Regions from separate parts of the Homo sapiens genome. Here all the other regions are linked to region 2. Evidence: fine-mapped expression QTL. A gene starts in region 2. Each other region holds a variant in brackets. All regions are shown on one strand. Distances are from middle to middle. Region 1 has its middle 6.1 kb from the start of ZNF705A. Region 2 holds the start of CLEC4A (C-type lectin domain family 4 member A). Region 3 has its middle 20 kb from the start of CLEC4A.

Region 1 (8,569 bases), 27 kb after region 2:
ACGAGGAGGATTCCTCCCAGTTTAGCACACACGCTCCACCAAGAGGCAGCCAGACTGCTTATTTAAGTGGGTCCCTGATCCTGCTCCTCCTGACTAGGTGAAATGTCCCAACAGGAGTCTCCAGACACCTCCTACAGGAGCATTCTGGCTGGCATGGGGTCAGTGTTCCTCTGGGACAGAGCTCCCAGAGGAAGGAGCAGACTGCCATCTTTGCTGTTCTGCAGCCTCTACTGGTGACATCTCCAGGGGTGGGAGGGAACCAGGTGGATAGGGTCTGGAGTGGACCCCCAGGAAATCATAGCAGCCGTGGGAAAGAGGGGCATGACTGCTAAAAGAAAAACAAACAGAAAGCAACAACAACAACATTAACAAAAAAGACCCCACAAAACCCTCATCCAAAGATCAGCAGCCTCAAAGATCAAAGGTAGATATACCTATGAAAATGAGAAAGAATCAATGCAAAAGTGCTAAAAACTCAAAAAACCAGAGTGTCTAAATGATCGCAACATGTCTCCAGCAAGGGCTCAGAACTGAGCTGAGGCTGAGATGAATGAATTGACAGAAACGGGCTTCAGAAGATGGGTAATAATGAACTTGACTGAGCTAAAGGAGTATGTTCTAATTCGTTGCAAAGAAGCTAATAATGATAAAACATTACAGGAGCTGTTAACCAAAATAACCAGTTTAGAGAGGAACACAAATGACTCAATGGAGCTGAAAAACACAACATGAGAACTTCACAATGCAAACACAAGTATCAATAGCTGTATAGAACAAGTGGATGAAAGGATATCAGAACTTGAAGACAATTCTGTGGAAATAAGGCAGGTAGACAAGGTTAGAGAAAAAAGGATGAAAAGAAACAAACAAAACCTCCGACAACTATGGGATTATGTTAAAAGACTGAACCTACGACTGATAGGGATACCCGAAAGACGCAGGGAGAATGAAACAAAGTTGGAAAACACACTTCAGGATATCATCCAGGAGAACTTCCCTTACCTAACAAGACAGGCCAACATGCAAATTCAGGAAATACAGAGGAACCCAGTAAGATACTCCACAAGAAGATCAACCCAAAGACACATAATCATCAGATTCTCCAAGGTAGAAATGAAGGAAAATATGTTAAGGGTAGCCAGAGAGAAAGGCCAAGTCACCTATAAAGGGAAGCCCATCAGACTAACAGCAGACCTCTCAATAGAAATCCTAGAAGCCAGGAGAGATTGGGGGCCAATATTCAACATTATTAAAGAAAACAATTTTGAACTGAGAATTTCATATTCAGCAAAACCAAGCTTTATAAATGAAGGAGAAATAAAATCCTTTTCAGACAAGTAAATGCTGAGGAAATTCATCACCACCAGGCCTGCCTTGCGAGAGATCCTGAAGGAAGCACTAAACATGGAAAGGAAAAAGCATTACCAGCCACTACAAAAACACATTGAAGTACACAGACCAATGATCCTATGAAGCAACTACATAAACAAGTCTGCAAAATAACCAGCTAACATCATGATGATAGGATGAAATTCACACATAACAATATTAACTTTAAATGTAAATGGGCCAAATGACCCAATTAAAAGACACAGAATGGCAAGCTAGATAAAGAGTGAAGATCCATTGGTGTGCTGTATTCAACAGAACCATCTAATATGCAAAGACACACATAGACTCAAAATAAAAGGATGGAGAAAAATTTACCAAGCAAATGGGAAACAGAAAAAAGCAGGGATTCTAATCTTAGTTTCTGACAAAACAGACTTTAAACCAACAAAAGTCAAAAGAGACAAAGAAGGGCATTACATAATAGTAAAGGGGTCAATTCAACAAGAAGAGTTAACTATCCTAAACATATATGCACCCAATACAGAGCATCCAGATTAATAAAACAAGTTCTTAGATACCTACAAAGAGACTTAGACTCCCACACAATAGTAGTGGGAGACTTTAACCCTCCACTGTCAATATTAGACAGAACAAGGCAGAAATTTAACAAAGATATTCAGGATTTGAACTCAGCTCTGGATCAGGTGGACCTGATAGATGTCTACAGAACTCTCCATCCCAAAACAACAGAATATACATTCTTCTCAGCGCCACATGGCACTTACTGTAAAATTGATCACATAATTGGAAGTAAATCACCCCTCAGAAAATGCAAAAGAACTGAAATAGTAACAGTCTCTCAGACCACAGCACAAATTAGAACTAAAGATTAAGAAACTCACTCAAAACCACACAACTACATGGAAATTGAACAACCTGCTCCTGAATGACTCTTGGGTAAATAATGACATTAAGGCAGAAATCAAAAAGTTCTTCGAACTTTTTGTGTCCAAGTGTTCTCATTATTCAATTCCCACCTATGAGTGAGAACATGTGGTGTTTGGTTTTCCGTCCTTGTGATAGTTTGCTCAGAAGGATGGTTTCCAGCTGCATCCATGTCCATGCAAAGGACATGAACTCATCCTTTTTTTATGGCTGCATAGTATTCCATGGTGTATATGTGCCACATTTTCTTAATCCAGTCTATCACTGATGGACATTTGGGTTGGTTCCAAGTCTTTGCTATTGTGAATAGTGCCACAATAAACATACGTGTGCATGTGTCTTTATAGTAGCATGATTTATAATGCTTTGGGTATATACCCAGTAATGGGATGGCTGGGTCAAATGGTATTTCTAGTTCTGGATCCTTGAGGAATTGCCACACTGTCTTCTACAATGTTTGTACTAGTTTACTCTCCCACCAACAGTGTAAAAGTGTTCCTATTTCTCCATATCCTCTCCAGCACCTGTTGTTTCCTGACTTTTTAATAATTGCCATTCTAATTGGTGTGAGATGGTATCTCACTGTGGCTTTGATTCGCATTTCTCTGATGACCAGTGATGATGAGCTTTTTGTCATATGTTTGTTGGATGCATAAATGTCTCCTTTTGAGAAGTGTCTGTTCATATCCTTTGCCCACTTATTGATGGGGTTGTTTGTTTTTTTCTTGTAAGTTTGTTTAAGTTCTTTGTAGATTCTGGATATTAGTCCTTTGTCAGATGGATAGATTGCAAAAATTTTCTCCCATTCTGTAGGTTGCCTGTTCACTCTGATGGTGGTTTCTTTTGCTGTGCAGAAGCTCTTTAGCTTAATGAGATCCCATTTGTCAATTTTGTCTTTTGTTGCCATTGCTTTTGGTGTTTTAGTCATGAAGTCCTTGCCCATGCCTATGTCCTGAATGGTATTGCCTAGGTTTTCCTCAGGGTTTTTATGGTTTTAGGTCTTACATTTAAGTCTTTAATCCATCTTGAGTTAATTTTTGT[A/G]TAAGATGTAAGGAAGGGGTCCAGTTTCAGTTTTCTGCATATGGCTAGCCAGTTTCCCAACACCATTTATTAAATAAGGAATCCTTTCCCCATTTCTTGTTTTTGTCCGGTTCATCAAAGATCAGATGGTTATAGATATGTGATGTTATTTCTGAGGCCTCTGTTCTGTTCCATTGGTCTATATATCTATTTTGGTGCCAGTATCATGCTGTTTCAGTTACTGTAGTCTTGTAGTATAGTTTGAAGTCAGGCAGCGTGATGCCTCCAGCTTTGTTCTTTTTGCTTAGGATTGTCTTGGCTATGTGGGCTCGTTTTTTGTTCCATATGAAATTTAAAGTAGTTTTTTTCCAATTCTGTGAAGAAAGTCAGTGGTAGCTTGATGGGGATAGCACTGAATCTATAAATTACCTTGGGCAATATGACCATTTTCACAATATTGATTCCTCCTATCCATGAGCTTGGAATGTTTTTACATTTGTTTGTGTCCTCTCTTATTTTCTTGAGCAGTGGTTTATAGTTCTCCTTGAAGAGGTCCTTCACATCCCTTGTAAGTTGTATTCCTAGGTATTTTATCCTCTTTGTAGCAATTGTGAATGGGAGTTCATTCATGATTTGGCTCTCTGTTTGTGTTATTGGTGTATAGGAATGCTTGTGATTTTTGCACATTGATTTTGTATCCTGAGACTCTGTTGAAGTTGCTTATCAGCTTAAGGAGATTTTGGGCTGTAACGGTGGTGTTTTCTAAATGTACAGTCATGTCATCTGCAAACAGAGACAATTTGACTTCCCTTTTCCTATCTGAATACCTTTTATTTCTTTCTCTTGCCTGACTACCCTGGCTAGAACTTCTAATACTGTGTTAAATAGGAGTGGTGAGAGAGGGCATCCTTGTGTTGTGCCGGTTTTCATAGGGAATGCTTCCAGCTTTTGCCCATTCAGTATGACATTGGCTGTGGGTTTTTCATAAATAGCTCTTATTATTTTGAGATACATTCCATCAATGCCTAGTTTATTGAGAGTTTTTAGAATGAAGTTGTGTTGAATTTTGTTGAAAGCCTTTTCTGCATATATTGAGATAATCATCTGGTTTTTGTCTTTGGTTCTGTTTATGTGATGGATCACGTTTATTGATTTGCATATGTTGAACCAGCCTTGCATCCTAGGGATGAAGCCAACTTGATTGTGTGGATAAGCTTTTTGATGTGCTGCTGGATTTGGTTTGCCAGTATTTTACTGAGGATTTTCACATCGATGTTCATCAGGGATATTGGCCTGAAATTTTCTTTTCTTATTGTGTTTCTGCCAGGTTTTGGCATCAGGATGATGCTAGCCTAGTAAAATGAGTTAGGGAGGATTCCCTCTTTTTCTGTTGTTTGGAATAGTTTCAGAAGGAATGGTAGTAGCTCCTCCTTGTACCTTTGGTAGAATTCGGCTGTGAATCCATCTGGTTGTGGACTTTTTTTGGTTGGTAGACTATTAATTACTGCCTCACTTTCAGAACTTGTTATTGGTCTATTCAGGAATTTGACTGCTTCCTGGTTTAGACTTGGGAATGTGTATGTGTCCAGGAGTCTATCCATTTCTTATAGATTTTCTAGTTTATTCATGTAGAGGTGTTTATAGTATTCTCTCATAGTAGTTTGTATTTCTGTGGGATCAGTGGTGATATCCCCTTTACCAATTTTTATTGTGTCTATTTGATTCCTCTCTTTTCTTCTTTATTAGTCTGGCTAGCAGTCTATTTTGTTGATCTTTTCAAAAAGCCAGCTCCTGGATTCAATTATTTTTTTGAAGGGTTTTTCGTGTCTCTGTCTCCTTCAGTTCTGCTCTGATCTTAGTTATTTTTTGTCTTCTGCTACCTTTTGAATTTGTTTGCTCTTGCTTCTCTAATTCTTTTAATTGTGATGTTAGGGTGTCGATTTTAGACCTATCCTGCTTTCTCTTGTGGGCATTTAGGGCTATAAATTTCCCTCTACACACTGCTTTAAATGTGTCCCAGAGATTCTGGTACGTTGTGTTTTTGTTCTCATTGGTTTCAAAGAACTTCTGTATTTCTGCCTTCATTTTGTTGTTTATCCAGTAGTCATTCAGGAGCAGGTTGTTCAGTTTCCATGTAATTATGTGGTTTTGAGTGAGTTTCTTAATCCTGAGTTCTAATTTGATTGCACTGTGGTCTGAGAGACTGTTCGTTATGATTTCCATCCTTTTGCATTTGCTGAGGAGTGTTTTACTTCCAATTATGTGGTCAATTTTAGAATAAGTGTGATGTGGTGCTGAGAAGAATGTATATTCTATTGATTTGAGGTGGAGAGTTCTGTAGACGTCTATTAGGTTTGCTTGGTCCAGAGCTGAGTTCAAGTCCTGTATATCCTTGTTAATTTTCTGTCTCATTGATCTGACTAATATTGACAGTGGGGTGTTGAAGTCTCTCAGTATTATTGTATGGGAGTCTAAATCTCTCTGTAGGTCTCTAACAACTTGCTTTATGAATCTGGGTGCTCCTGTATTGGGTGCATATATATTTAGGATAGTTAGCTCTTCTTGTTGCATTGATCCCTTTACCATTATGTAATGCCCTTTTTTGTCCTATAAATCTTTGTTGATTTAAAGTCTGTTTTATCAGACACTAGGATTTTAACCCCTGCTTTTTTTTTTGCTTTCCATTTGCTTGGTAAATATTCTTCCATCCCTTTATTTTGAACCTATGTTTGTCTTTGCACGTGAGATGGGTCTCCTGAATACAGCACACCAATAGGTCTTGACTTTTCATCCAATTTGCCAGTCTGTGTCTTTTAATTGGGACATTCAGCCCATTTACATTTAAAGTTAACATTGTCATGTGTAAATTTGATCCTGTCATTATGATGCTAGTTGGTTATTTTGCACATTATTTGATGCAGTTTCTTCATAGTGTTGATGGTCTTTACATTTTGGTATGTTTTTGCAGTGGCTGGTACCGGCTTTTCCTTTCCATATTCAGTGCTTTCTTAGTAGCTCTCGTAAGACAGGACTGGTAGTGACAAAATCCTTTATCATTTGCAAGTGTGGAAAGATTTTATTTCTCCTTTGCTTGTGAAACTTAGGTTGGCTGGATATGATATTCCACGTTGAAAATTCTTTTCTTTAGAAATGTTGAATATTGGCCCTCACTCTCTTCTGCTTTGTAGGTTTCTGCAGAGAGATCTGCTGTTATTCTGATGGGCTTCCCTTTGTGGGTAACCTGACCTTTCTCTCTGACTGCTCTTAACATTTTTTCTTTCATTTCAACCTTTATGAATCTGACAAATATCTCTCTTGGGGTTGCTCTTCTTGCAGAGTATCTTTGTGGTGTTCTCTGTATTTCCTGAATTTGAATGTTGGCCTGCCTTGTTAGGTTGGGGAAGTTCTCCTGGATAATATCCTGAAGTAGTTTTCCAACTTAGTTCCATTCTCCCCATCACTTTCAGGTATACCAATCAAACATAGGTTTGGTCTTTTCACATAATCCCATATTTCTTGGAGGCTTTTTTTATTCCTTTGCATTCTTTTTTCTCTAATCTTGTGTTCACACTTTATTTTATTAAGTTGACCTTCAATCTCTGATATCCTTTTTTTCCACTTGATAGATTTGGCTATTGATACTTGCGTATGCTTCACGAAGTTCTCGTGCTGTATTTTTCAGCTCCATTTAGTCATTTATATTCTGGCTTTGTGGAGCTGTGATGGGCTTCACCCAGTTCCAAATTCCTGGTGGCTTTGTTTACATTGTGAGGGGAAAACTGCGTACTCAAGCCTCAGTAATGGCAGACACCCTTTTCCCCCTCAGTGAAGCTCAAGCATCCCAGGTCAACTTCAGACTGCTGTGCTGGCAGGTTGAATTTCAAGCCAGTGGATCTTAGCTTGCTAGGCTCCATGGGGTTGGGACCCACTGATGAGACCAATTGGCTCTCTGGCTTCAGCCCCATTTCCAAGGGAGTGAATGGTTCTGTCTTGCTGGCATTCCAGGTGCCACTGGGGTATAAAAACAAAACAAAACAAAATAAAACAAAACCCAAAGACTTCTGCAGCTACCTTGGTGTCTGCCCAAATGGCTGCCCAGTTTTGCACTCGAAACCCAGGGTCCTGGTGGTGTAGGCACCTGAGGGAATCTCCTGGTCTGTGGGTTGTGAATACCATGGGAAAAGCATAGTATCTGGGCCTGATAGCACTGTTCTTCATGGCACAGTCCCTCATGGCTACACCCGGCTAGGGGAGGGACTTCCCCGATCCCTGTGCTTCCTGGGTGAGGCAACACCCCACCCTGCTTCTGCTCACCCTCCACAGGCTGCACCCACTGTCTAACTAGTCCCAATGAGATGAGCCAGGTGCCTCAGTTGGAAATGCAGAAATCACCCGCCTTCTCTGTTGGTCTCACTGGGAGCTGCAGACCAGAGCTGTTACTATTCAGCTCTCTCTTGTGTTTCTTCTTAAGACATTAACTTATTAACACAACTTCGAATGACTACTTATCATTAAGAAAAGTATATAGAAATAGCAATAGATTTTTGTGATATTGAATATTTGTTTATATTTTGAAGGCATATAAACAAATTATCTTTATGCCATTTAAATGCTTGTTTTTTGCATGATCAACCATGATAATCAAAAAGAGAAACTTCACATAAAACATCATGAGAATTATTTGAACATATTTGGAGAGTCAACATTCTTTAAATTTTTGAATGTTCTTTTGCTTGTATTTTTGTCAAGATAAAGAATGAGATTTGAGCTTCAAAGAAACCCACACAGGTGGTTCCTGTCTGCCTCACTTTGGAGTTGTACATGCAGTGATTCTAGAAGAATAACCACAGAGTGGAAATGAGAACTGTTTTTCTTTTTAGTTACAGGGAGGAGATTAAAAGTAAAACCAAGAATGGAAGATTAGGAATTGATGTTAAATCTAAGACTGATTTTTTTTTAAAGTAAACAAATGTACAAAGTGGAAGAATTGTAAAGTTAGATAATCTTAGGACTGAAATAGAGATTGAAACATGATAATAGGTTAGAAAATGATGAAATTAGGAAAATAAGTCACACTTAAGGGCAACTGAGAGGAGAAGAAAAACTAACAAATTTGGGAGTGGAAAAATTGAAGAAAATAGTAAAAATTGGGGAAAGTTAGGGTATCAAAGGGAGGATGCTCTTGAAGGAAAAAGATAATAGTAAGCTGAGACTGCTTTGTATTGCCTAAGTTTGTATTTGGCCATTTGATTACAGGATGTTTCTAGGATTC
Region 2 (8,569 bases):
AATAAGATAGATTTTTTATTTGTTTGCTTTTGTTTTCTGAGACAGAGCTTCGCTACTGTTGCCCAGGCTGGAGTGCAATGGTGCGATCTCAGTTCACTGCAACTTCTGCCTCCCAGGTTCAAGTGGTTCTCCTGCCTCAGCCTCCCTAGTGTCTGGGCTTATAGGCATGCACCACCACGCCTGGCTAATTTTGTATTTTTAGTAGTGATGGGGTTTCACCATGTTGGTCAGGCTGGTCTCGATCCCCTGACCTTAGGTGATCCACCCGCCTTGGCCTCCCAAAGTGCTGGGATTACAGGCATGAGCTACCATGCCTAGCCTGTGTCTTTTTATTATGAAAGAAATACATGCTTATAAAATATCAAACAGTAAAAAATCTTTAAAAATAAAAGTGCCCTATTTACTCCATCCTTACTTCTAAATACTGAGATTAATTTCACAGTGAACAGAATGGTCACTTGCCATCATATCAATATAAATAGTCTAACGAATATCTTGTTTTCATGAAATTAACAATACTGAGCTATTAAATTGACTTCTGATATCAACTACCTGGACTTAGGCCAAATTTCACAGGTTGAGGGCACGCCCTTCATAAGACTGCCATTACTTCAGATACCAGCCACAAGTTCAGGGGTTCCCAGGGGTGTCCTCACTCCTGATCAACTGACTACAAATTTGGGGTTTCCCATGATCCCTTCAGGTTTTATGATTTATTAGAATGACTCACTGAACTCAGGATAGTGCCATGCTTATGATTGCAGTTTTATTATAGCAAAAGGATACAAATCAGAACCAGCCAGAGGGAGAGATGCATGGGGTAAGGACTGAGAGGGTCCTAAATGGAAATTTCCATTGACCCCATTGATATATCACTTTCTTAGAACTTTAATGTGTGATAATACACAGAGTATTGCCAATCAGGGGAGCTTCAGTGCCCAGAGTTTTTACTGGGGTCCATTATGTAGGCATGATTGATTGAACCATTGGTCACAAGTTGAACTCAGTCTCTAGCTTCCCTTCCCCACCTGGGCTGATATAACATGGCTCAGGGCTTCAATGCGCCAATCACATGACTGGTCTTTCCGGCATGGCCAGCCCCACCCTGAATCACCTTCTTAGCATAAACTATCTTAGAGCCCATCATGAGAGACCTCATTAGCATGAGATATACGGGCCCACCATGAATAACAAAGACAATCCTATTATTTGGAAAATTCCAAGGATTTAAAGGCTACCTCCAGGAAGTGGGAACAAAATCCAGGCAAATTCTTTATTACCTAGGTTAACTGCAACATGATGCAATATTCAGAGAGTGAACGAACAAGTGAAGGCACACTGTCAGCCTCTCAGAGTTGTGGAACTTCCAGTCTTCCCTCATAATAGGTACCATACCACACATGACATGCAATCAATACTAGTAAAGCTTATCTTCCTTAAAACTTTAAATAAATGTAAATAGATGTTTTAGTGTTTTTTTCTCTGTGCCTTAGCAGATCCTCTTTTATACTGCCTAAGGTACTTGTGCCCCATTTTGGAGATCACTGCCCAAGAGATCTCTTGGATAAATAATTTAAAGGGATAAGGGGATAGATTCTATTATTGTTTCCAAATGTCTGTGTTCTCCTTTGTGAAAGGATTAAACTTTGATACCCTTGACATGTCTTTCTGTAGACAAAGTATATTTCCCTGTCTCACTTGCAGGTTTGTTCAGGTAACTTGCATTGGCCAACAGAATCAGAGCAAATACAACGTACACCTTATCTGAATAAAGGATGCTACTACATGGTTCAGCTTACAAGGAGCTATTCTGTGATCTCAGCTTCCAGAATGAGAAAACACTTGGAGAGGGGCCAAGCAGAGTTGCAGTCAACTCCAAGGTGGCCCTAAGCACAAGTGTAATGTAAGTGAGAAATACATGTTTGTTGTTGTAAGCCACTTGGATTTTGGGGTTGTTGGTGATACGGTGTAATCCAGTTATAATGTGACTTATTCCAGGGAGAGAGCTATAGTTTTAGGAATATGGTTTGCTTTCTAATTATGAGCTTAGATTGTAAAGACTCTGAGAATCAATGATTGTTATTTCAGGGAATATGTGTGCATGTATACCTGTCTACGTGCATGTGCTGGTTAGGCCCAATCATTAATTTGTGGAGAACTTAAAATTCCCTTATCCTTCCCTTATGCTTTGTCATTCCCCTTTCCCTTTTCTTACTAAATAATTTGATTCTAAATAAAGCAGTAGCAAGATAGGTGTCTATGGTGAGGTGGCTGGGAGAGCAGCAGTGGCCTGGCACAGGGGGAGAGCTTTAGCAGGGTGAGAAGGGTGACTATGCAGGGTATTGGCTTGACAGTGGTTCTGGAGCCCAAGCAGAGTGAGAAGAACATCCCTTAGGGGTGGGAAAGTGTCCTGGCATGGGGAACCAGAGCGAGGAGATGTCCACTCCTGGCAATGGCCCAGTGCAGGGTGTCAGAGGATAAGATTGAGGAGGGTGTCCATAGTAGGGGTAGCCTGATGTGAGAGGTCAGAGTCTGAGAGGTAAAGAAGGCATCTATGTGGTGGGATAGTCAGGTGCAGTGAGTTGGAGTGCAAGCAGGGTGAGGAGGGCATCCATGTATGAGGTTACCTTCTATAGGGAGTCAGAGTCGCAAATGGCTGAGCAGAGTACTCTAGGGCCAGCCTGGTATGTATGTCAGCATGTGGGAGAGGTGAGGAGGGCACCCATGCCTAGTGTTGGCCCAGTTGGGGTTGGGACTCAGCACTTAAGCAGGATGAGGAGAGAGAGCATCCTTGCAGAGGGTAGACCTGGTGTGGTTTCAGAGACCAAGCATGATAAGGAGGGTGTCCATGTGGTGGGGTAGCCCAGTGAGGGAACTCAGATCCTAAGTAGGGTAAGATGGACATTATTGCTGGGGGATGGAGGACCTGCATGGAGTGTCAGAGCCCAAGCAGGATGAAGAAAGCTTCTATGCAGAGGGAGGACTTGGTGTGGGTTTCAGAAACTTAGCAGGATAAGGAGGTGGTCCATGTGGTAGGATAGCCCGGTGAGGAAATCAGACCCCTCCAGGGTGAGGAGGGCTTCCACCCATAGGGTGACCTTGTGTGGAGCATTAGAACCTAAGGGGGTCTAAGTGGTGACTAGGGGACCAGCATCAGGAATCAGAGTGCAAGCAGAGTGAGGAGGGCTTTCCTGCAGAGGAATGGCCTAGCACAGGGAGTCAGAGCCTTGGCAGGGTGAGGGGGATGTTTGTTGGGGGATGTTCATGGGGGTGGGGAGTGGGCTGGCCCTTTGCCGGCACTCTCAGAGTGAGGAGGGAGGGCATCCGCGCAGGGGATGGTGGCTTGGACTGGGGAGTCAGAGCCCAACTAGGAAGAGAGGGACATCTTAGCAGGTGGGAGATTGACGACATCCAGGAGATTGATCAAATAAGGAATAAGTGAAAGACAATGAAAGCAGGTTTCTTAGTGTCACAGAAAGGAGTTAGGAATGTGGGAAGGGAGAAAACTAGAATGAAACTTGTGGTGTTAGATTGGAATTAGAGGAATTAGTGTGAACTCATGGTGTTCAATATATTTAGATATAGAAATAATATAGAAATATAGACGTGTGTGTTTGTGTGTGTGTGCATGCATGTATGCATGTGTGTTATGCAGGAGAAGGAATCAGCTGGGGGAGATTAAAAGGAGGATCATTTGCGGAGAGTTGAGGGCAGAGAATCCAGGTGTGAGCTGGGAGCATGTCTATGGAGAGATTCCACATGAAGGATTTAATATTTGGAGTGTTTTCTTCTAGGCCTTTGGAAAAAGTCATATTTAGTACTTTGTTTAAGTTTATCCCCTTCTATACTGTGATTCTATATAATTCTCCTAACTGTTAAAAAATAGTCATATATATTGGAGGTGATGTGGCGATTAAAAGGTTAGGGAAGCATGGAATAAAGGCTGGCCTTCCCTCTCCTCCAACATCCAGTAAAGGGAGCTGCTTTCTGGAGATTCTAGCAAGATGAATGCAGACTTTTGATAGAGTTAGTTACCAACAAGGAAACACAGAGAGCATGGAGGAACAGCTTCAGAAGACATGGGGTTTAAACTTTGCCATCCCCACCATGCTACAGGAAACTAATTCGTGAAGGTGGGGAGGCTGATATGTGAGTTTTGTGTCAATGATACTCTTAGAATGTGGTACTAACAAGTTGCCTGATCAGTCAAAATTGATGAGATGAATGCAACATAAGTCTATGTTCAGGATGTTTGGTCAAAAGTAATTACATTTGTGTGTGGAAGCACAGAAATTGTATTTTTTACTGGTGAAAAACGCAGTTCTCCAGAAAGACTCTAAGTGCTTGGTTCTTCTTTTATTTTTCTTCCTCTTTCCGCAACCCTTTGAGTTCCCACTTTTATTGCATTTGCTTGCATTTGTTTCAAGGCTGTGATTCTCACTATACTGGTCCTGAGGAAAGGGCTTCTGTGAACTGCGGTTTTTAGTTTTTATTGTGGTTCTTAGTTCTCATGAGACCCCTCTTGAGGATATGTGCCTATCTGGTGCCTCTGCTCTCCACTAGTTGAGTGAAAGGAAGGAGGTAATTTACCACCATGTTTGGTTCCTGTTTATAAGATGTTTTAAGAAAGATCTGAAACAGATTTTCTGAAGAAAGCAGAAGCTCTCTTCCCATTATGACTTCGGAAATCACTTATGCTGAAGTGAGGTTCAAAAATGAATTCAAGTCCTCAGGCATCAACACAGCCTCTTCTGCAGGTAAAGATCATTTTCTAGGGGTCAGAGTGAATGACGAGGTGAAGGATGAGGAGAGGGTTTATGAATAAGGCATAGGTGTTTTCAGTTGCTGGTTGTCTGATTGAGTATGTCTGGGAAACACAAGAGTCCCAGAAGATTGAGTGGCCTGCAGATACGCATTACGGGGTGTACATTTGTATTGTGGAGAAGAAAAGATTTTGTGCCACTCTCTTCAGCCTCCACTCTGCTTACTGAAACAGAGGTGAGAGAAATCCACTCCAGTTCTGAGCTAAGGCGAGTGCTCTGATGCCCCTGTGTTTTCTGAGGCTGAGTGGGGCTGGGGTTAAGAGATTGAGTACAGCTTCTGAAACCATCAATCCAGATGCAGGGGGTCCTGATGAATTTGTGAGATTTGTTTTTTGATCAGTTAGAGGGAAAGAGTTTGGGTGGACAGTGGTGAGGGTATATTTGTTGGTAATGGATGGAAATGTAACAAAAGGCCTTTGCAAATGAAAGACTAGAAAGTCTACAAAGAAAGTCTCTTAAATCTCCAGGAAACTTTTTCTGAAATCAGAGAACCTATTGCGTGTTGCATCTCTGAGACAGACTCTGTTACGTTTGGGAGTAGATGCAAGGTGATTTGGGTGTCATGTGTGATATCTCAAGTATAGAGCAAAAGAGAGAAAAGAATGTATATAGAGTACAAGAAACTATGGGGGAAGGGGTCAGGACTATAGTTACGCTTTCTAAAATACCTCTGTGAAGGTGTGGAGAGCACTTAGGGAAATTTTTTCTCCTTAAAAACTTTATATAATTTCTTTATTACACAAGTATTAATGTTCATTGTAGAAAAAATTAACCAGAGGTACACAGATATTTGAATTATAATTACTCTTATCATCTAGAGAAAATCATAATTTGCAATTTAGTGAATATCCTTCCACATACAAATACATATAATGTGCATATGTATTTTACTAAAAATGTAATCATATTATATAATACTGAATTTTTTTCCCCCATCATTTGACAAAATATCATAACTCGAAGAAAGTGATTCCTAACCATGAGATGGTAACTAAAAAGACTGACTTTATTCTAAACATGTGATGAGGAATGATTATAAAGATTTATTTGCTATAGCATTATTTAAAGTTGGAAACCATTATTTAAATATATGATGAAATACTATGCAACCATAATAAGGAGTGTTAAAGAAGAAAATATAATGGTATGAAAAATGTTCATGATATAGTGTAAAGGAAAATAATAGGTCAGAAATCAGTATTTATGGTATGTCAATCGTGGGAAAATTTGCATATGTGTATATATACATTCAAAAAATTGCTAGAAAGATATATACCAAAATATTATGGTATATTATAAGTTATATGGCATAACAGTTATCCTCAATTGTAGGAATTCGTACTTTTATGTATTTTTTAAAGTTTCTACAGTGAATATTATTATATCCTTTCTATTCCTATTCTCATGTGATTTCAAATGTCATACCGTTAGTAACTGTGTGTCATCCAAGAAAAGAGAGAGAAAGAGGAGGAGGAAGAAGAGGAAGTAAAGACCAAACTTATTACTGATAAAACTAATTTGGCTTCTTCTTCAGCTTCCAAGGAGAGGACTGCCCCTCACAAAAGTAATACCGGATTCCCCAAGCTGCTTTGTGCCTCACTGTTGATATTTTTCCTGCTATTGGCAATCTCATTCTTTATTGCTTTTGTCAGTAAGTATGCCAACTGAACCAATAAGCAATATCTGCTGTCCATGAACAGAGGGTATCCTTTAAAAACTGACTTTTGAAAATGAGCTTATCCAGAAATCTGAAATGAAATTTTCTCTGGGGAGACATAATTCATGGGAATCCACTGTGAATTTTGCTCTTTATTTGGATTTAGTTACTGTCCTGTAAAAATAATGGAATCCCTTCTCATTTAGAGAAACTGAAGCATAAATGTGGGTGTATGTATTTGTGTTGTAGAGTGAAATCTATGGGGCATCATCTCTATACTAGACACTATGTAAGTGAGGACAAATCTATGTTTCCTTGGTAGCATTTATCAGGCCAGTCTGATTTGAATGCACAGACATTTATGTTTTGGGATGAGCAGGTAGACAACAAGGAGATGGGAAGAAATATTTCAGGAAGAGTTCTCCACTGGCTTTTACTCTGATTATTCCTGCCCTGCTCAAGACTGTGTGGGATCTAAAAGTCAATTTTGCAAATTAGGTGGATTGCTGCGTATCTTTGGCTTTCAGCATTTGTTGAGTTTTATTCCCCCTGGTTCTGTCACCCAGGCTGGAGTGCATTGGTGCAATCTTGGCTCACTGCAACCTCCACCTCCCAGGTTCAAGCGATTCTCCCACCCCAGCCTCCCAAGTAGCTGGGATTACAGGTGTGCATCACTATGCTCAGCTAATTTTTTTTTTTTTTTTTTTTGTATTTTTAGTAGAGACAGGGTTTTCTCATGTTTCCTGGCCTTGTCCTGAACTCCTGGGCTCAAGCAGTCTGCCTACCTCAGCCTCCTAACGTGCTGGGATTACAGGCATGAGTCACTACGCCTGGCTCAAAATTTTTAAAAGGCATAAAAAGCAGTATACATTTAGGTAGATTCTTTATTAATTTCTTTGGTCATTTCATAAGTATTGTCCATCTACTGTATGTCAGGCACTGTGCCAGACAGAGAGTCAAGACAGAGCCACAGCCCCTGGTCTCAAGAAATTTAGAGAATGATAAAATGAACCAGTGGTTATAACATTGTATGGTAAGTGTTGTACAGTTAAGAAGTATAATAAGTGCAAGAGGCTGAGGTAGGCTTTCCGGAGGAGGTGACATCTAGAGCTGTGTGTACCAAGAATGACCTAGAGATATGAGAGAGCATGGAATTTGGGGAAACGTAAGTATGCATGACTGGAACATATGGTGCTAAGTAAAGAACTAAGAAATGAAGTTGTAGGTGGCAGAAAGAAACAGGACTCAGATCATGAAGACTGCTGTATATCATGATAAAGAGTTTGGATTTTTTCCCTCCTAAAGGTTATTTTATCAATTATCTTTTGCTGGTTAATAAGCCAATCTAAAACTTAGTGGATTAAAACAGCAACTATTTATTTAGCTCATAAATCTGTGTCTTGGCAATTGAGACTGGTGTCAGTTGGGAGATTTCCCCAGTCCTGGCTGAACTCACTCATGTATATGTGGTTGGGTACTGGCCACAGGCAACTTAGCTTCTGAGGAACAGGATGTTAGATGGAATGGCAGGAGAGATTTGGCCACGTTTCTCTTATCATTCATCAGGGTAGCCTGGGTTTGTTCACATGGCAACTGGCAGGCTTTTAAGACTGAGAGCGGAAGTAAGCAAGGCCTTTTGAAATCTCACCTTGGAACTAGCGCAGAGTTGCTCCTGCACATTCTATTGGCCAAAAGAAGTCTTACAGGCAGCCCAGATCCAGGCGGTGGAGAAATAGACCACATTTCTTGATTGAAGAAGCTGCAAAATCACATTGCAAAGCAGTGTAGATACAGGGTATGTTGAAAGTTGTGGCCATTTTTGCAATGTCACAGTCATAGAGAAAATTGAAGAATTTTAAGCAGGGAATTGATATAATTGGATTGGACTTATAGAAACATGATTTTTACAGAGGTGTGGAAAATGGATAAATGAGGACAAATTTGGAGGGAAAGAGAGGTTAGAAGGATAATTCATTAATTCAATTGAGAAATATTGTCAGACTGATCTATGGCTAGTGTTAGCGAAAAAAGAGAAGATGAAGTAATTTTGAATGATAAAGGAGGTAGAGGCTTGATGAATATTCAGTTC
Region 3 (8,549 bases), 20 kb before region 2:
TAAACCTCATGGTAACCACAAAGCAAAAACTATAGTAGATACACAAAAGATAAAGAGAACAATCAAAGGACTATAGAAAATCATCAAATAACAAAGGAATAGAGCAAGAGAGGAAGAAAGGAACAAAGGGCCCACAAAACAATCAAAAAACAATTTGAAAAATGGCAGCAGTAAGTCCTTACCTATTAATGATTATTTTGAATGCAAAATGGATTACATTCTCCAATCAAAAGACAGAGTGGCTAAATGAATTAAAAAAACAAGACTCAACTGTATCCTGCCTACAAGAGCATCACTTCACCTTTAAGGACACATAGAGACTGAAAGTTAGGCATGGAGACAGATATTTAATGCAAATGGAAACCAAAAGAGGGCAGGGGTAGCTATATTACTATATAGTCCCTCCTTATCTGAGGTTTTGTTTTCTGTGCTTTCAGTTACCTGCAGTCAACTGTGCTTTGAAAATACTAACTGGAAAATTACAAAAATTATTCATAAGTTTAAAAGTGGCACACTGGGGGCCGGGCGCGGTGGCTCACCCCTGTAATCCCAGCACTTTGGGAGTCCGAGGCGGGTGGATCATGAGGTCAGGAGATCGAGACCATCCTGGCTAACATGGTGAAACCCCGTCTCTACTAAAAAATAGAAAAAATTAGCCGGGCGTGGTGGCGGGCACCTGTAGTCCCAGCTATTCGGAAGGCTGAGGCAGAATGGCGTGAAGCTGGGAGGCGGAGCTTGCAGTGAGCCGAGATCGCGCCACTGCACTCCAGCCTGGGCGACAGAGCGAGACTCCGTCTCAAAAAAAAAAAAAAAAAAAATAGTGGCACACAGTTGAGTAGTGTGATGAAATCTCACACCATATTCCTTTGCCCTGCCCTGGATGTGAATCATCCTTTTGTCCAATGTGTCCATTCTATATACATTACCTACCTATTTGACACTTGATAGTCCTCTCAGTTATCAGATTGTTGTGGTATTGCAATGCTTGTACAAATTCAGTTAACCCTTATTTTACTTAATAGTGGCCCCAAAGCACAAGAGTGGTGACTCTGGCATATTGTTATATTTATTCTATTTTATTATTACTTATTGTTAATCTCTTGCTGTGCCTAATTTATAAATTTAACTTTATCATAGGTGTATATATAGGAGAAAACATAATGTATATAGGGTTCAGTACCATCTGTGGTTTCAGGCATCCAAGGGGGATCTTGGAATGTATTCCCTCAGGATAAGGGGGGAATACTGTATGTATTTCAGACAAAATAGACTTTAAGTCAAAAGCTATAACAAGAGCAAGAGACACGGTCATTACATAAACGTTGAAGAGGTAAATTCTTTTTTTTTTTTCTTTGAGACAGAATCTCCCTCTTGCCCAGGCTGGAGTGCAGTGGTATGATCTCAGCTCACTGCAACCTCTGCCTCCTGGGTTCAAGTGATTCTCCTGCCTCAGCCTCCTGAAGCTGGGACTACAGGCATGTACCACCACGCCCGGCTGATTTTTGTATTTTTAGTAGAGATGGGTTTTCACCGTGTTGGCCAGGCTGGTCTTGAATTACAGACCTCAAGTGATCCACCCACCTCAGCCTCCCAAAGTGCTGGGATTACAGGTGTGAGCCATTGTGCCTGGCCCAAAGAGGTAAATTCATCAAGATGATTGGAGCATCAAAATATATAAAGCAAATAACAGATTTTTTTTAAAAGTGAAAGCAAGTTTATTAAGAAAGTAAAGGAACAAAAGAATGGCAGAACAGCCCTCTTAACAGACTTGAAGAGGGAAATAGACAGCAATAGAATACCCCACTTTCAACAATGGATAGATCAGACAGAAAATCAAAGAGGAAACATTGAACTTGAGCTGCTCTTCAGACAATATGGGCCTAAGAGACATATACACAACATTTATTCAACAGCAGCAGAATACATATGCTTCTCAAGTGCACGTGGAATGTTCTCCAGTATAAATATGTTTGGTCACAAAACAAGTCTTAACAAATTTAAGATTGAAATCATATTGAGTATCTTTTGACTATAATAGTCTGAAATTAGAAATCAATAACAGGATGAAAACCAGAACATTCACAAACATGTGGAAATTAAAAAGTTTCCTGAACAATCGATGGGTCAAAGAATCAAAAAAGAAAAAAATATCTTGAGACAAATTAAAGTGGAAACACAGCATATCAAAATTTATGGGATGCAGCAAAAGTAGTTCTAAAAGGGAAGTTTATACCTCCATTAAGAAAAAAGAAAGATCTCAAACAAGCTAATGTTACACCTACAGGAACTAGCCAAAGCCTAAAGTTAGCAGAAAGAAAGAAGTAACAGGCCAGGCACAGTGGCTCACGCCTGTAATCCCAGCACTTTGGGAAGCCGAGGCAGGTGGATCACGAGGTCAGGAGTTCGAGACGAGCCTGGCCAACATAGTGAAACCCTGTCTTTCCTAAAAATACAAAAATTAGCTGGGTGTGGTGGCACGCGCCTGTAGTCCCAGCTACTCGGGAGGCTGAGGCGGGAGAATTGCTTGAATCCAGGAGGCGGAGGTTGCACTGAGCCGAGACTGTGCCATTGCACTCCAGCCTGGGTGACAGAGTGAGACTCCATCTCAAAAAAAAAAAAAAAAAAAAGAGCAGAAATAAATGAAATTTATATGCCTTTTCTCCTACATTAAAAAGAAAGAACTAATACCAATCCTTCTCAAACTCTTCCAGAAAATTGAAGAGGAGGGAATAATTTCAAATTCATTTTACAGGGTCAGCATTACCCTGATACCAAAGCCAGATAAGGACACTACAAGAAAATTACATCCCAGTATCCCTGATAAACACAGATGCAAAATCCTCAACAAAATACTAGCCAACTGAATTTGGCTAGTATATTTAATAGAGCCTGTTAAAAGATTATACACCATGATCAAGTGGGACTTATCCCTTGGATGCAAGGATGGTTCAACACACACAAATCAAATGTGATAAACTGTCTTAACAGAATGAAGGACAAAGGCCATATCATCTCAATAGATGCAGAAAAAGCATTTAACTAAATTCAACATTCTTTTGTGATAAATACCCTACAATTTAGATATAGAAAGAACTTACTTCAACACAATAAAGGCCATATATCACAAGCCCAGAACTAACATTATTGTCCGTGGTGAAAAACTGAAAGCTTTTCCTCTAATTTAGGAAAAAGACAAGGATGCCCACTCACTACTTCTATTCAACATAGTGCTGGAAGACTTAGCCAGAGCAATCAGGCAAGAAAAAGAAATAAGAGGCATTCAAATCAGAAAGGAAGAAATAAAATTGTCTTTGTTTGCAGAAGACACTAAATGAAATAAGCCAGACGGATAAATAATGCATGATCTCACTTACAAGTGGAATCTAGAAAAAGTTAAACTCACAGAAACCCAGTAGAATCATGGTTACCCAGGCTAGGAGGTCAGGGAAGAAGGAAGATAATGGTCAAAGGGTACAAACCTTCAGCTATAAGATGAATAAGCACCGAGACCTGATGTACAGGATGGTAACTATAGTTAATAATAATGCATACCTGAAATTTGCTAAGAGAGTAGATCTCAAGTGTTCTCACCACACACACAAGTAACTACGTGAGGTAATGGATACGTTTATTAGCCTAATTGTAATCATTTCACAATGTATACATATATTAAAATATCACATTGTATATTCTAAATATATATAATTTTTATTTGTCAACCATACCTCAATAAAGCTGGAAAAAAGATATATATATGTATATGTAAAAAGTAACACATACTGCTTTCTTCAGAGATTCTGATATACCTCCCGCTTTTGCCTTCCTGTAGGAGGACTTAAGAGACTTCCTGAACTGCGTCTTTTCTTATCATTACTGAGATTTTGAGGCACTGCTATTGACAGAGGTATATCTTAGACCTTAAGTTTTTGTTTGGGAAAAAAAATGTGGACAATCAATTTTCTAGCTCAACTCCCCTTAATTATATTTGATACTACTTGTCTTGTTATAATGTGAGCCTGTATTACTCCTCACTTCCTCCATTCTGATAACCTCCTAGGCAGTCTGCTTGCCAATGGCTTTTTTAGTTCTAATTCAGCTTACATGTTAACCCCAAAGTAATGTTTGTGAAACAAAGCTCTGCTCATGTTTTTTACTCTCCTATTAATTGCCTTTAATAATTCTTCTTTGCTTATAAAGTCCAAAATATAATTTCATCTTCAACTCAGTTTTCCCATTGACTCACAATGTGCTTTAACAAACTTAAGAACTACTAGTTGTTTCTTTGTTTCTTTCTGTTGTTTTTTTTTTTTTTTTTTTTTTTTTTTTTAGACGGAGTCTCACTCTGTCGCCCAGGCTGGAGGGCAGTGGCATGATCTCGGCTCACTGCAAGCTTTGCCTCCCGGCTTCACAC[C/T]GGCTTCTGCCTCAGCCTCCCGAGTAGCTGGGACTACAGGGGCACGCCACCACGCCTGGCTAATTTTTTGTATTTTTAGTAGAGACAGGGTTTCACCATGTTAGCCAGGATGGTCTTGATCTCCTGACCTCATGATCCCTCTGCCTTGGCGTCCCCAGTACTGGGATTACAGGCGTGAGCCACTGCACCCAGCCCCACTAGTTGTTTTTCATATGCCACAAGTATTGAGTGCTTGCTAAATTAAAATTTTTTCTGCCTAGAATACCTTCCCTTTTATACCTGCCTGTTGAGGTCCTTCCCATTGTGTAATGCTCGCCCAAATACTACTTCATGAAATGTTTACCTATCCTTCCAATCTGAAAGGTGATCTGTTTATTTGAGGGGGCAAGGGGTGGGGAGTGTTGCTGTTGAAATTCTCTTCCTCACTTGTTTTAAGCTCTTTGAATATAAAGACCATGTATGTCTTCATTTTTATGTACTTGCAGTACTTCCCATACACCTTTCTAGATAGTACATGCTCATGAAGTACTTGTGGAATTAACAGTGATTTCAGTGAGGAGGGACTAGAAGTTGGTAAGTTGAGTGTTTTCTGTATTTTACTCATTTTCATTTGGGTTGCTCCTGGCTACATGACTTAAGTATTCCTTATATGCTTTGCCATAGTGGCAGAAAATCTCATTTTTTTTTTTTTTTAGGTCAGTACATTTTAGAAAGGCCAGTCCATTACCTTAAATGTTTTCTAGATGAGATACACCAGTTGTGACAAATACTTGGTCTTACCTTGAATTGTAAGCCACCTCAGAATAAATTAAATTCCATTTTCCTTTTTTCATTCCAGTGCATTTTCCCCATTTTTCCTCTGTATTTAGGATGGCAAACAAGTACTTTATGCCTTGCAAATAAATTGGTTTCTGTGGTCATAATTACAAATCAAGCCATTTGGGTGCTTCTGTGCATACGAAAGCCTACGGCTGGCTTCTCCATGAATCCTAATACAGGACAGTTGATTCTCTTCAAGAAACAATCAAACCATCCCTGCCTTCTCCACCATATCTTTGATGTTTCCCTGCACCTTTTCTTTCTTTTTTTAAAAAACTTCTATTTTAGATTCAGAGGTATATATGCAGGTTTATTATATAGGTAAATTGCATGTCATGGGGGTTGGATATACAGATTATTTTGTCGCCTGGGTAATAAGCATAGTACTTGATAGGTAGTTTTTCAATCCTCTCCCTTCTCCCCCTCCCCACTCAGGGACCCAATGTCTGTTGTTCCCTTCTTTGTGTCCATATGTATGCAATGTTTAGATCTCATTCACACGTGAGAACATGTGGTATTTGGTTTCCTATTCCTGCATTAGTTCACTTAGGTTTATGGCCTCCAGCTCTATCTATGTTGCTGCCAAGGACATGTTCTTTTTCTTTTTTTATGGCTGCATAGTATTCCATAGTGTATATATACCACATTTTCTTTATCCAGTCTACCATTGATGGGCATTTAGGTTGATTCCACGACTTTGCTATTGTGAATAGTGCTTCAGTGAACATACGTATGCGGCATACATGTGTCTTTATGGTAGAATGATTTATATTCCTTTGGGTATATACCCAATAATGGGATTACTGGGTTGAATGGTAGTTCTAAGTTCTTTGAGAAATCACCACGCTACTTTCTACAATGGCTGAACTAATTTATGTTCCCACCAGCAGTGTATAAGTGTTCCCTTTTTCCTGCAGCCTCATCAACAGCTGTTATTTTGACTTTTTCATAATAGCCATTCTGACTGGTGTGAGATGGTATCTTATTGTGGTTTTGATTTGTGTTTCTCTAATGATTAGTGATGTTGAGCAATTTTTCTTTTCTTTTTTTTTTTTTTTAAGATGGAGTTTCGCTCTTGTCACCCAGGCTGGAGTGCAATGGCACGATCTCGGCTCACTGCAACCTCCACCTCCCAGGTTCAAGCAATTCTCCTGCCTCAGCCTCCCAAGTAGCTGGGACTACAGGTGTGTGCCACCACGGCTGGCTAAGTTTTTTGTATTTTTAGTAGAGACGGGGTTTCACCATCTTGGCCAGGCTGGTCTCAAACTCCCGACCTCATGATCCACCCGCCTCAGCCTCCCAAAGTACTGGGATTACAGGCATGAGCCACCGTGCCCGGCTGATGTTGAGCAATTTTTCATATGCTTGTTGGCCATGTGTCTTCTTTTGAAAAGTGCCTGTTCTTGTCCTTTGCCCACTTTTTAAAGGGTTGTTTGTTTTTTGCTTGTTAATTTGCTGTTTATAGATTCTGGATATCAGATCTTCGTCAGATGCATAGTTTACAAATATATTCTCCCATTCTGTTGGTTGTCTGTTTACTCTGTGAATAGTTTATTTTGCTGTCCAGAAGCTCTTTAGTTTAATTTGGTTTCATTTGTCAGTTTTTGTTTTTGTCATAATTGGTTTTGGCATATTCTTTATGAAATCTTTGCCCATTCCTATGTCCAGAATGATATTTCCTAGGTTATCTTTCAGGGTTTTTATAGTTTTATGTTTTATATTTAAGTCTTTAATCCCTCTTGAGTTGATTTTTGTATGCGGTATAAGGAAGGGGTCCAGTTTCAATCTTCTGCATATCGCTAGCTAGTTATCCCAGCACCATTTATTGAATAGGGAGTCCTTTCCTCATTGCTTGTTTTTGTCAACTTTGTCAAAGATAAGATGGTTGTAGGTGTGCAGCTTTATTTCTGGACTCTCTATTCTGTTACATTGGTCTATGTGTCTGTTTTTGTACCAGTACCATGCTGTTTTGGTTATTGTAGCCTTGTAGTATAGTTTGAAGTCAGGCGACACAATGCCTCCAGCTTTGTTCTTTTTGCTCAGGATTGCCCTGGCTATTTGAGCTCTTTTTTGGTTCCATATGAATTTTAGAATAGTTTTAAAAAAATTCTGTGAAGAATGTCATTGGTAGTTTGATAGGAATAGCATCAAATCTATAAATTGCTTTGGGCAGTATGGCCATTTTAACAATATTGATTCTTCTTATCCATGAGCATGGAATATTTTTCCATTTGCTTGTGTCATCTCTGATTTCTTTGAGCAGTGTTTTGTAATACTTGCTGTAGAGATCTTTTACCTCCCTGGTTAGCTGTATTCCGAGGTATTTTATTTTATGATTATTTTTTGTGGCATTTTGAATGGAATTACATTTTTGATTTGCCTCTCAGCTTGGACGTTGGATTTTTGTACACTGATTTTCTATCTTGAAACTTTACTGAAGTTGTTTATCAGATCTAGAAGCTTTTGGGCAGAGACTGTGGGTTTTCTAGGTATAGAATCATCTCATCTGCAAACAGATGATTTGATTTCCTCTGTTACTATTTGGATACCTTTTATTTCTTTCTCTCGCCTGATTGTCCTGCCTAGAACTTCCAGTACTATGTTGCATAGGAATGGTGAGAGTAGGTATCCGTGTCTTGTTCCAGTTCTCAAGGAGAATGCTTCCAGCTTTTGCCCATTCAGTATGATGTTGGCTGTGGGTCTGTCATAGATGGTTCTTATTATTTTGTGGTATATTCCTTCAATGCCTAGTGTGTTGAGGGTTTTTAACATGAAGAGATGTTGAATTTTATCAAAAGCCTTTTTTTGCATCTATTTAGATGATTGTGTGGCTTTTGTTTTTAGTTTTCTTTATGTGGTGAATTACATTCATGGATTTGTGTATGTTGAACCAACCTTGCATCCCAGAGATAAAGCCTGCTTGATAATGGTGGATTAACTTTTTGATGTGCTACTGGATTTGGTTTGCTTGTATTTTGTTGATGATTTTTGCATCTATGCTCATCAAGGATATTGACCTGGTTTCCTTTTTTATTCTGTCTCTGCCAGGTTTTGGAATCAGGATGATACTGGCTTCAGAGAATCAGTTAGCGATGAGTCCTTCCTCCTCAAATTTTTGGAACAGTTTCAGTAGGAATAGTTCAGCAGGAACCTCTTCTTTATACATCCAGTAGAATTTGGCTGTGAATCCACCTGGTCCTGGGCCTTTTCTGGTTGGTAGGCTTTTTATTACTGATTCAGTTTCAGAACTTGTTATTGATCTGTTCAGGGATTCAATTTCTTCCTGGGTCAATCTTGGGAGGTTGCATGTTTCCAAGAA

What was found. PIP is the estimated chance that this variant, and not a neighbour inherited with it, causes the effect. A credible set is the group of variants that fine-mapping cannot tell apart.
Region 1: its variant is the best candidate, but not a certain one, in a credible set for the expression of CLEC4A in lung (TOPMed, PIP 0.68).
Region 3: its variant is the best candidate, but not a certain one, in a credible set for the expression of CLEC4A in lung (TOPMed, PIP 0.52).

What each region holds. Positions count from the first base shown.
Region 1 is chr12:8,146,616-8,155,184 of GRCh38, forward strand. No RefSeq gene overlaps it. Among named protein-coding and RNA genes, the nearest start is that of ZNF705A, 6.1 kb to the right of the region's middle. The variant A/G (reference allele first, on the strand shown) is at 3,319.
Region 2 is chr12:8,119,204-8,127,772 of GRCh38, forward strand. CLEC4A (C-type lectin domain family 4 member A) reads left to right here and starts at 4,414. Exons shown (of 6, transcript NM_016184.4): 1 at 4,414-4,757; 2 at 6,358-6,474. The coding sequence starts at 4,676. RefSeq lists an enhancer at 4,284-4,333.
Region 3 is chr12:8,099,079-8,107,627 of GRCh38, forward strand. It overlaps a transcript of CLEC4A not described here. Among named protein-coding and RNA genes, the nearest start is that of CLEC4A, 20 kb to the right of the region's middle. The variant C/T (reference allele first, on the strand shown) is at 4,412.